2 linked regions of the Homo sapiens genome follow. The protein of the gene in region 1 interacts with the protein of each later gene in a biochemical or structural test. Each region holds a gene or a part of one and is shown in the gene's direction. Other genes may lie near its edges. The genes, in order: S100G and SLC8A1.

Evidence for each region.
Region 2: the proteins of S100G (region 1) and SLC8A1 interact in a biophysical measurement, tested with the Homo sapiens proteins (one large-scale study listed by IntAct).

Annotation. Positions count from the first base shown.
Region 1 is NC_000023.11:16,648,776-16,653,068, forward strand, and holds the start of S100G (protein S100-G), read left to right. Parts: upstream 1-1,382; 5' UTR 1,383-1,428; intron 1,429-2,127; exon of another isoform or gene 2,128-2,223; 5' UTR 2,224-2,231; coding exon 2,232-2,366; intron 2,367-4,293.
Region 2 is NC_000002.12:40,116,468-40,120,288, reverse strand, and holds part of SLC8A1 (sodium/calcium exchanger 1 isoform A precursor), read left to right. Parts: intron 1-3,821. UniProt on the Homo sapiens protein: Mediates the exchange of one Ca(2+) ion against three to four Na(+) ions across the cell membrane, and thereby contributes to the regulation of cytoplasmic Ca(2+) levels and Ca(2+)-dependent cellular processes.

The DNA of each region.
Region 1 (4,293 bases):
AAATGCTCAAGACTGGCGGGAAGCTTTTAAGGAATTCTATTAGATTTCCCATTTGTTCTCCAATGTAAATAAGGCCCTAGAATTTTAGAGCTGAGAAACATCAGGGAGAAATACAGTCCCAATAGTCCAGTCCTCAGTTTGTAGGTGATATAAGGCAGAGTCAGGGAAAATTCTATAAGTGTGGAAGTGTACAAGTGTTTCAAAGCTGTAAAGTGCTCTTAAAATCCACCTGGAACCCCTTCCTGTGAGTTACAATCAGCATTAGATCAATGTCCCTTGGAAATGTCCTACTTATTTCATGGAACTCTTTCCAGTAGAAATCAATCTCCTTGGCAATTTTAAATCATGGCAGTTACAAAAAGTTTGAAGTATTTCCAACTGAACAAGAGTAAGTCGAGTGTTCTCACAAGTTTTTCGAATGATCACGAAATATATTTGGTAAGGAAAAGGATAATGAGAAATAAAAAGCAGACACAGGACCAACAAATAATGAAAGAGCTGAAAAAATGACCATGTTACTCAATATTGATTTGCCAAATAAAACCACAAATTACTGAGTATCTTCTTTCCACTTCTTAAACCTGCTTCTGAAGCAATACTTCCATTCATTCATTCATGTATTCAAATATTTAAGCTGCTAATATGTAAAGACATCAGAAGGACTTCAATGGCCATACCGTAATTTTTTAAACTATGTAATATTGTCCTTCTATGACAGCATTTTTTCTTTTTTACAGACAGGATCTCACTCTGTCACCCAGGCTGGAGTGCAGTGGCACAATCATGGCTCACTGTTGCCTCAACCTCCCAGGCTTAAGGAATCCTCCCACCTCAGCCTCTACAGTAGCTGGGACTACAGGCATGTACCATCACACCTGGCTGATTTTTTAAATTTTTCAGTAGAAATGTCTTGCTGTGTTGACCAGGCTGGTATCAAACTCCTCACCTCAAGCAATCCTCCTGCCTCGGCCTCCCAAAGTGCTGGGATTACAGGCATGAGCTACCGCACAGGGCAGCATTTATTTTTTCTGGATATGAAGAAAGTTATTTTTTAAAGCCTAAATATGCAACTAAATTGAAAAGAATCCTCTATATCTAAGCTTTATGAAATGTGAACTGTGAGCAAATATAATTCTACATTGGAGGGAAAATATAATCTCAGGGGGAAAAAAATCCAAGCTTACGACTCTGAACCATGAAGCAACTGTCGAGATGGACCTTTACTGGATCTTGCCCTTAATTATGGGGTTCATGCAGTCTTAAGCCTGAGTTTCAAAAACCATTAATAATTACCCTTAAATGGCCAACAAAAGGAAATTTTCATAATCAGGGTGGCGTGCCCGTAAAGACTATAAAAGTGTCATGATTCTGCTCAGCTCTTCAAACTCCTCTTTGATTCTTCTAGCTGTTTCACTATTGGGCAACCAGGTTAGTGTGATTTTGGTACTACCTAGAGCTCCTTCTGTTTGCATTAATACTCTGCTTCCTTTTAGAATGGTGTGAAAGATAATGGTCTGGAGAGAAGGTGAGTTTATGCCATCTGGAGATATTCCCTGTAACTTAGAAGCTAGAAGCTGTGGTCAAGTATTCTTCAAGACCACAGCCTGCAGAGTGCAGATCAGGTACATAAAAAGTGTAGAATGTCATTAATTACTAATAAAAATGTTTGGCTCCAGGGACCATCTCCTAACAGATGTACTCTAAGAACAGACATTTAACATACTATCTAAGATGTCTTTTTTTTTTTTTTTTTTTTTTTGCAGCGGAGGCTCGCTCTGTCACCCAGGCTGGAGTGCAGTGGCATCGCACTCACTGCAACCTCCGCCTCCCGGGTTCAAGCGATTCTCCTGCCTCGGTCTTCCAAGTAGATGGGACTATAGGCACGCACCACCACGCCTGGCTAATTTTTGTATAGAGACAGGGTCTCACCATGTTGGCCAGGCTTCCATGGTCTCGAACTCCTGACTTCAAGTGATCCACCCTCCTTGGCCTCCCAAAGTGCTGGGATTACAGGCATGAGCTACCGTGCCTGGCCTAAGATGCTTATTTTTTAAACATGTTAGTAGTTACTGGTGCCATTCCGACCCCGACATTCTCTTTTCCTTATTCTTCCCCATTTATGCCAAGGAAATGGCCCAATGGCACTAAAATCCTGCAGACAACCCTCAGCACAAAACTGTACTTCAGCTTTTTGGTAAGTTTATTTTCTTCCCAATTTATAAGACACCAGAATGAGTACTAAAAAGTCTCCTGAGGAACTGAAGAGGATTTTTGAAAAATATGCAGCCAAAGAAGGTGATCCAGACCAGTTGTCAAAGGATGAACTGAAGCTATTGATTCAGGCTGAATTCCCCAGTTTACTCAAAGTAAGTGGCCATCCGCAGAGCCCACTTAATGGGACTGATGGTGGGAGGGGAGGGAGGGAGGGGAGAGGACTCCGGTAGAGCCTTATAGGGACCGTCGCTTGAGGGAGGACACATGCAGGTGGGGTTTCTTCCCCTTAAGTCAGGCCACATTTCAGAAGGCAAGCTCTCAGAAAACAAGGGCCAAGCCTTCTATCCCTCCTGCAGCCTCAGCACAGGACTCTGCAGGACTAGCCATAATAAATGGAAGCAATGCCAAGTTATGCCTGGAAGACCCACAAGTCACCAAGCAAACCCAATAAGGCCTTCAGCATGGATTCAGTACTTCTGTGCCAGGCTTTAGGAAAACAAAGAGGACTGCAAAATAGTGTTAGCTGGCCTTGGACAGGCTTCATTTGTGTATGTAAAATCCCTCAACAAGACCAACACTTACTTAGCAGTCTGTTAGGAAAACCCACTGACAAATTGCCTTGTCAGCACTCATTTATATTTCAAAAGCATTTACATTTGTGTTCATCACTTAAATTTGTGTTAATGAGGCAACCGTGCATTTCTAAACAACTTTCAAGAAAGGACTAAATTTCCTGGGCCATAAAGTTTCACATCAAAATCACCCCAGAGTTGTCAAAATCAAAATGCATTCAAGGCAACAGAGTACAGAGAAGAGCTGATCGTCCTCACTCCAATATACAGTACTGTCTTTCCTTTTGCTAAAGAAAAAGCTGAGTCAGGACACTTGCCAAGGATGGTAAGGCAACTTACTCCAGGAGGGCCATGGCGACCCATACAGGGACCACTGAAACGTGTTCTTGCCATGGGGAGAGAGATTGGGCTCAACTCCAGAAAGGATAAGTGGGGGTTTATGACCATAGAGCAGGATGGGGGGGGCCAGTGGATGGAAAATTACCAAGGAAATATCCAGGATAAGGAGCTTCTGGCTAAATTGCCTTGATAGGATTCTAGCTGAAGGCAGGCCAGGTGATCAAATATTAAGGGTAGTCAGATACAAGGACAGAGAGGGAAGCCCAAGGTCAGGCCTAGTCGAGCAGAGGACTCAAAGGAGAGAGTCATTGTCATTTTGCAATTAAAAACCATCTTCACAACAGAAGTGACTATGGAATTGTTTTGTATGACTCAGTCACTATTTAGCTCTAACTTCAGGAAAGAACATTTCTTCAAATATTTTAACCAGCTCTCCAGATTTTAACCAGAAATGTCCCTTCTGCCAATATGACAATTGGAAAGACTTCTGTTTTTAATACTAAAAAAGAAAAAAGCTGAATTCAATGACCCCAGAATCTGATATTTTCTCATTTTCTCATAGTTGAAATATAGAAGAACTTGTAAAAACACTTAAAGTCACTAGCAGAAAAAGGGACTTTTTAATTAAACAGCAAAACAAGTTAGTGAAAAAATTTAAAATTTTAAAAGACCCTTTATTTTTTCTAAAAGGAAGAAAAATAATCATCTAACAGGAAAGCCTAGGCCATGTACTCAAACAAGTTGTTTCAAAAGGTAACACGGGTAACTTTTTCTATATTTTATGTCTTTCCTACAAAAAGTACGTAAGACATAATCTGGAACGAGGTAGGAAGACTAATGGTAAGTTCTGAAAGTCTACTTAACATGTACCTGATTATATTCCCATAAGGTTTCCATTACTAAGGTTTTCCACCATACTCTGTTTACATATATCATCACCATGCATGGTTTAGAATCTAGTAAAGGCTTCAGGAAAACAGTGTTTCATATTCATAAATCAAAGGCTGAATAAGTAACTTACAGTTTGGTCTTGTAATTAAAGCAAAGTGCTAAGTGTTTTTGTAGGAATCTTAGGGGTTAAAATATATCTTCCATAGAGATGTGCTGCACAAAATTGTGAATCTACTTAGCACTACTGAACTGTATGCTTAAAAATGATTAAGAGCGT
Region 2 (3,821 bases), on another chromosome or scaffold:
GACTCCAATTAAAACCACTGCCAGTGTCAGTTCCTGGGCATGAAGCATTGGAGAGCTGAACAGCTGGTCCCCAAAGAACACTAAGAGCCAAGAATAAGATGAACCATCTGGGGCGAAACCCTTGCTCCAGATAATACATTATCCCTGCATCCATCCTGCAAGACTGTGAGAATGACCTTTTTTTGCAGAAGAGATGTTTAAGGCTTAGCCTATAAGTAGCAATAAAGTTTGAGAAATTTAGGTAAAGAATAATTGCTGAAGGAAAGGGAGAGTATTGGCCTATTTTTGCATGTTGACCAGATGACTTGGGCAAGGTAATATACCATGAACTTGAGGCAGGTCTGCAAAGAACAATTACGTCCTGACTTTGTGATGTGTAGTTTAATTCCAGCCATGCTGTCTCCTCAACAGTCTTCCTTCTTATTGATTTATAGTCATATGTATCAAGGAGCCAGGACTAAAAGTCTAAAACTGTATGACTGATCTAAAATTAATTAGAATTCAAGGTGGGAGTTAATAGCAAAAACTATTAAAAACCTAGCCAGGGACATAGATGAAGGAAAAAATACATGTGTTATTATCAACATATTTTGTGTCAATCGCATTGGAAATCTGATCCATATATAAAAGTTTTTATCTAATGGGCCAACCTCTGAATATTATTATATCCCCTTCAAACCCAAGGCAGTAGTTATTTCTTGGATTTTATTTTAGGATATGGCATTTGCCTGGTTTAACCATAGGCAGGTTACAGGCTTAGTGTTCAAAGTAGGGCTTGGCAGCACCTAACATATGGTATGTGATGTATTGCCCTATGTGCTGAGCAGCAAAGCGGCAATAAAAGGTAATTTGGGGAGAATCCATCGCACTTCATTTGGAAAACAGAGTTCTCTCTGTTGGAGCTAAGGTTAGTGGTTTGGATTTGCGTGTGTTCCTGCAATTTTTTTTTTTTTTACATTGCTTTTGAATTGAAAATAAAAACAGACAAAAGGCCTGATGTCTAACCCAAGTAAATAAAACCTATGAGACACAAAGTAGCCAAAAACATGTTTTACTTATGTGACAAGCTAGTCACTTTGGCTATTAACTCTTAGGAAATTCAAAGAAAGACATTTGAAAATAGGAACCTATTATTATTACAAGTAAGAATCCTTATGCAACATTCACATTAATAGGCTACTGATACATGGCTTGAGGGAGAGGAAATCACTGCATACCCAGGTGTGCCCTCCATGTCAGCCTAAAGGACTGGTTTGGGTGCTTTGAGTCCCCAGACCCAGGAGTCTTTGATTTTAAACTTCCTTTCCTTCTGGTGCGGCAGCAAAGGTGCCATCTAGAAAGCCCAGAGTTTCTGAGTACACATGGGATACCCAGGAAGTCCAGTGTGCAATGTATCAGGTGCCAGGGGAGGTAAGCAGGTGTGTTCTATGGAACAGCACCAGGTCACCTGTCCCTGTAGCATACAGAGGGAATTACCACCCCCGCAACTGCCCCACCTAACGTGGCCATCTGTTCACCACCAGCCAGTGCTACCAGCCATTTCAGCTTAGAATAACATCTCAGGTGTTTCTCAGCTGTACCTGAGCTGGAAGCTGCTTTCTCCTGCCTCAGACTTTTGTTCCTTTACTTTCCATGTTCCACTGCCTGACCTTAAAAAAAAAAAAAAAAAAAAAAAAAAAAACTTCCTTTTTTTTCTTTTTGAGGCTGCTGCCCTGTTTCTATTAACTTTTAATAATGAAGTACAAGAAACCATTAAGATTTGTCTCGCTTTGCTTTTACTCACCAGTCTCTGTGATAGTTGATTGGGCTGTGTGAATGTGTGATCATGAATGCACAAAGCAGCACAAATCCAGGAGTCTGGATTCACAAACTGCCCATACCTTCTTCAATCTTTGTTCTCCTGATACAGTAAAGAGCATTTGGTAAGAACCTGCTTCAAAGTTTCTGAGTGAAAGGAACAGGGCCACCTGAAATGAACTAAGAGGAAAGACAAACTTCAGGCTTCCTGGAAGGGGCAATGTGGTGTGGACTGAGACTGGGCTCTGAAATCAGACTTTGGTTTAAAAATTCACATTTGCTAAGACCCTATCCAAGAGGCATAATATCACAACGTCACAGTTTCTCATATCATGAAAGAGGAGTAATGACATCTAGCCCATAATGCTTGTGAGAGGGGTGAATGAGAATACACACGTTGCCTGTGTAGCATAGTGCCTAGCATGGAATAAGCAGTGTTTGTCTACTTCTTTAATTATGAAATAATAATCAGATCTGCTTTTCATCACAGGCAGAGGGCAGAATTGATGATAGGCCTTCAGAATTGACCAACTCCCTTTCAGGAAGAATGTCATACTGCAGATGCAGTAGCCTTTTAGTAGCCTAAAAAGCCTTCTTATCCATTGTAAAGCAGGAGAATCCATGGGCTGATCTATATTTACATGCTGTACATATCTTCCCCACTGGAAGTTTACGGAGGAAGGATGGTGGCAATAGCATAACAACAGAGGGGAGAGACTAGTACAGGTATCGTACAACTACATACATGCTCAGAGCATGCCCAGGACCTCAGGAGGACCAGAGCAGATAACACAACACCTTGCAGTCATTTAATGCTTGCTGTTACTGGCTTTGGAAATAAGTTCAATTTGACAGTTATTAATATCTGCTATAATCCTACTGTGCAAGGTAGCTGAAAGGACTTTATTTGATTTTTTTTTTTTTTTTGAGATGGAGTCTCACTCTGTTGCCCAGGCTGGAGTGCAGTGGCATGGTCACGGGTCATTGCAACCTCCACCTCCCGGGTTCAAGCAATTCTCATGCTTCAGCCTCCCAAGTAGCTGGGATTACAGGTGTGTACCACCACGCCTGGCTTTTTTTTTTTTTTTTTTTTTTTTTTGTATTTTTAGTATATAGACAGGGTTTCACCATGTTGGCCAAACTGGTCTCGAACTCCTAACCTCAAGTGATCCGCCCATCTCGGCCTCCCAAAGTACTGGGATTATAGGCATGAGCTACCGTGCCCAGCCAGGACTTTGATGTAAGTAGGCATAATGTGGACAAGAAATTTAGTATCTTGCAAGTTCTGTTCACATGCTTAATACAGGAAGCTATTTCAGATCCTACCTCAACTTTTAAACCGATCTAGCCTGCTCGGTTTATATTGTGTTTCCAAAACAACAAAAACAGCCTCTCCTACTACTTTGTGCCAAAAAGCATCAAAAGCATTTTATTTACATGTAGTATTTCACCTTACCAACAGCACTCTGAAGTGAGCAGTACCATCCCCATTTAACAGATTAGGAAATTGAGGCCCAGAGAAGTTAAGTAATCTTCCAGAGTCACACAGTCAGCTGCGAAGGCAGGATTTGAAGTCCCCCAGCTCAAATGTGCTCTAAACCCCTGTGTTCTACCCATCAAGAAGTTTAAGTCACTGTTGTTCAACCTTCTGTAGTGGACCAAGATTTTCCTATCATCACAAAAAGATACAGTCAGGATTATGAGTAAATAAAGGGCTTTGAAAATGATCATTGGTGCCCACAGCACAGTGAAAGGTAGAAAAGCACCATGAGAAAGCATTCGTTTTGAAGACATGAGGCAGGAGCTGTAGCCCTAACATGTTTTTTTCCTAGTTGTGATATTGCATCCACTACTTGTCATCTCTAAGCCTCGTTCCCTCACCTCATAACCATCATTCTCAGTAAACTATCGCAAGAACAAAAAACCAAACACCGCATATTCTCACTCATAGGTGGGAATTGAACAGTGAGATCACATGGACACAGGAAGGGGAACATCACACTCTGGGGACTGCTGTGGGGTGG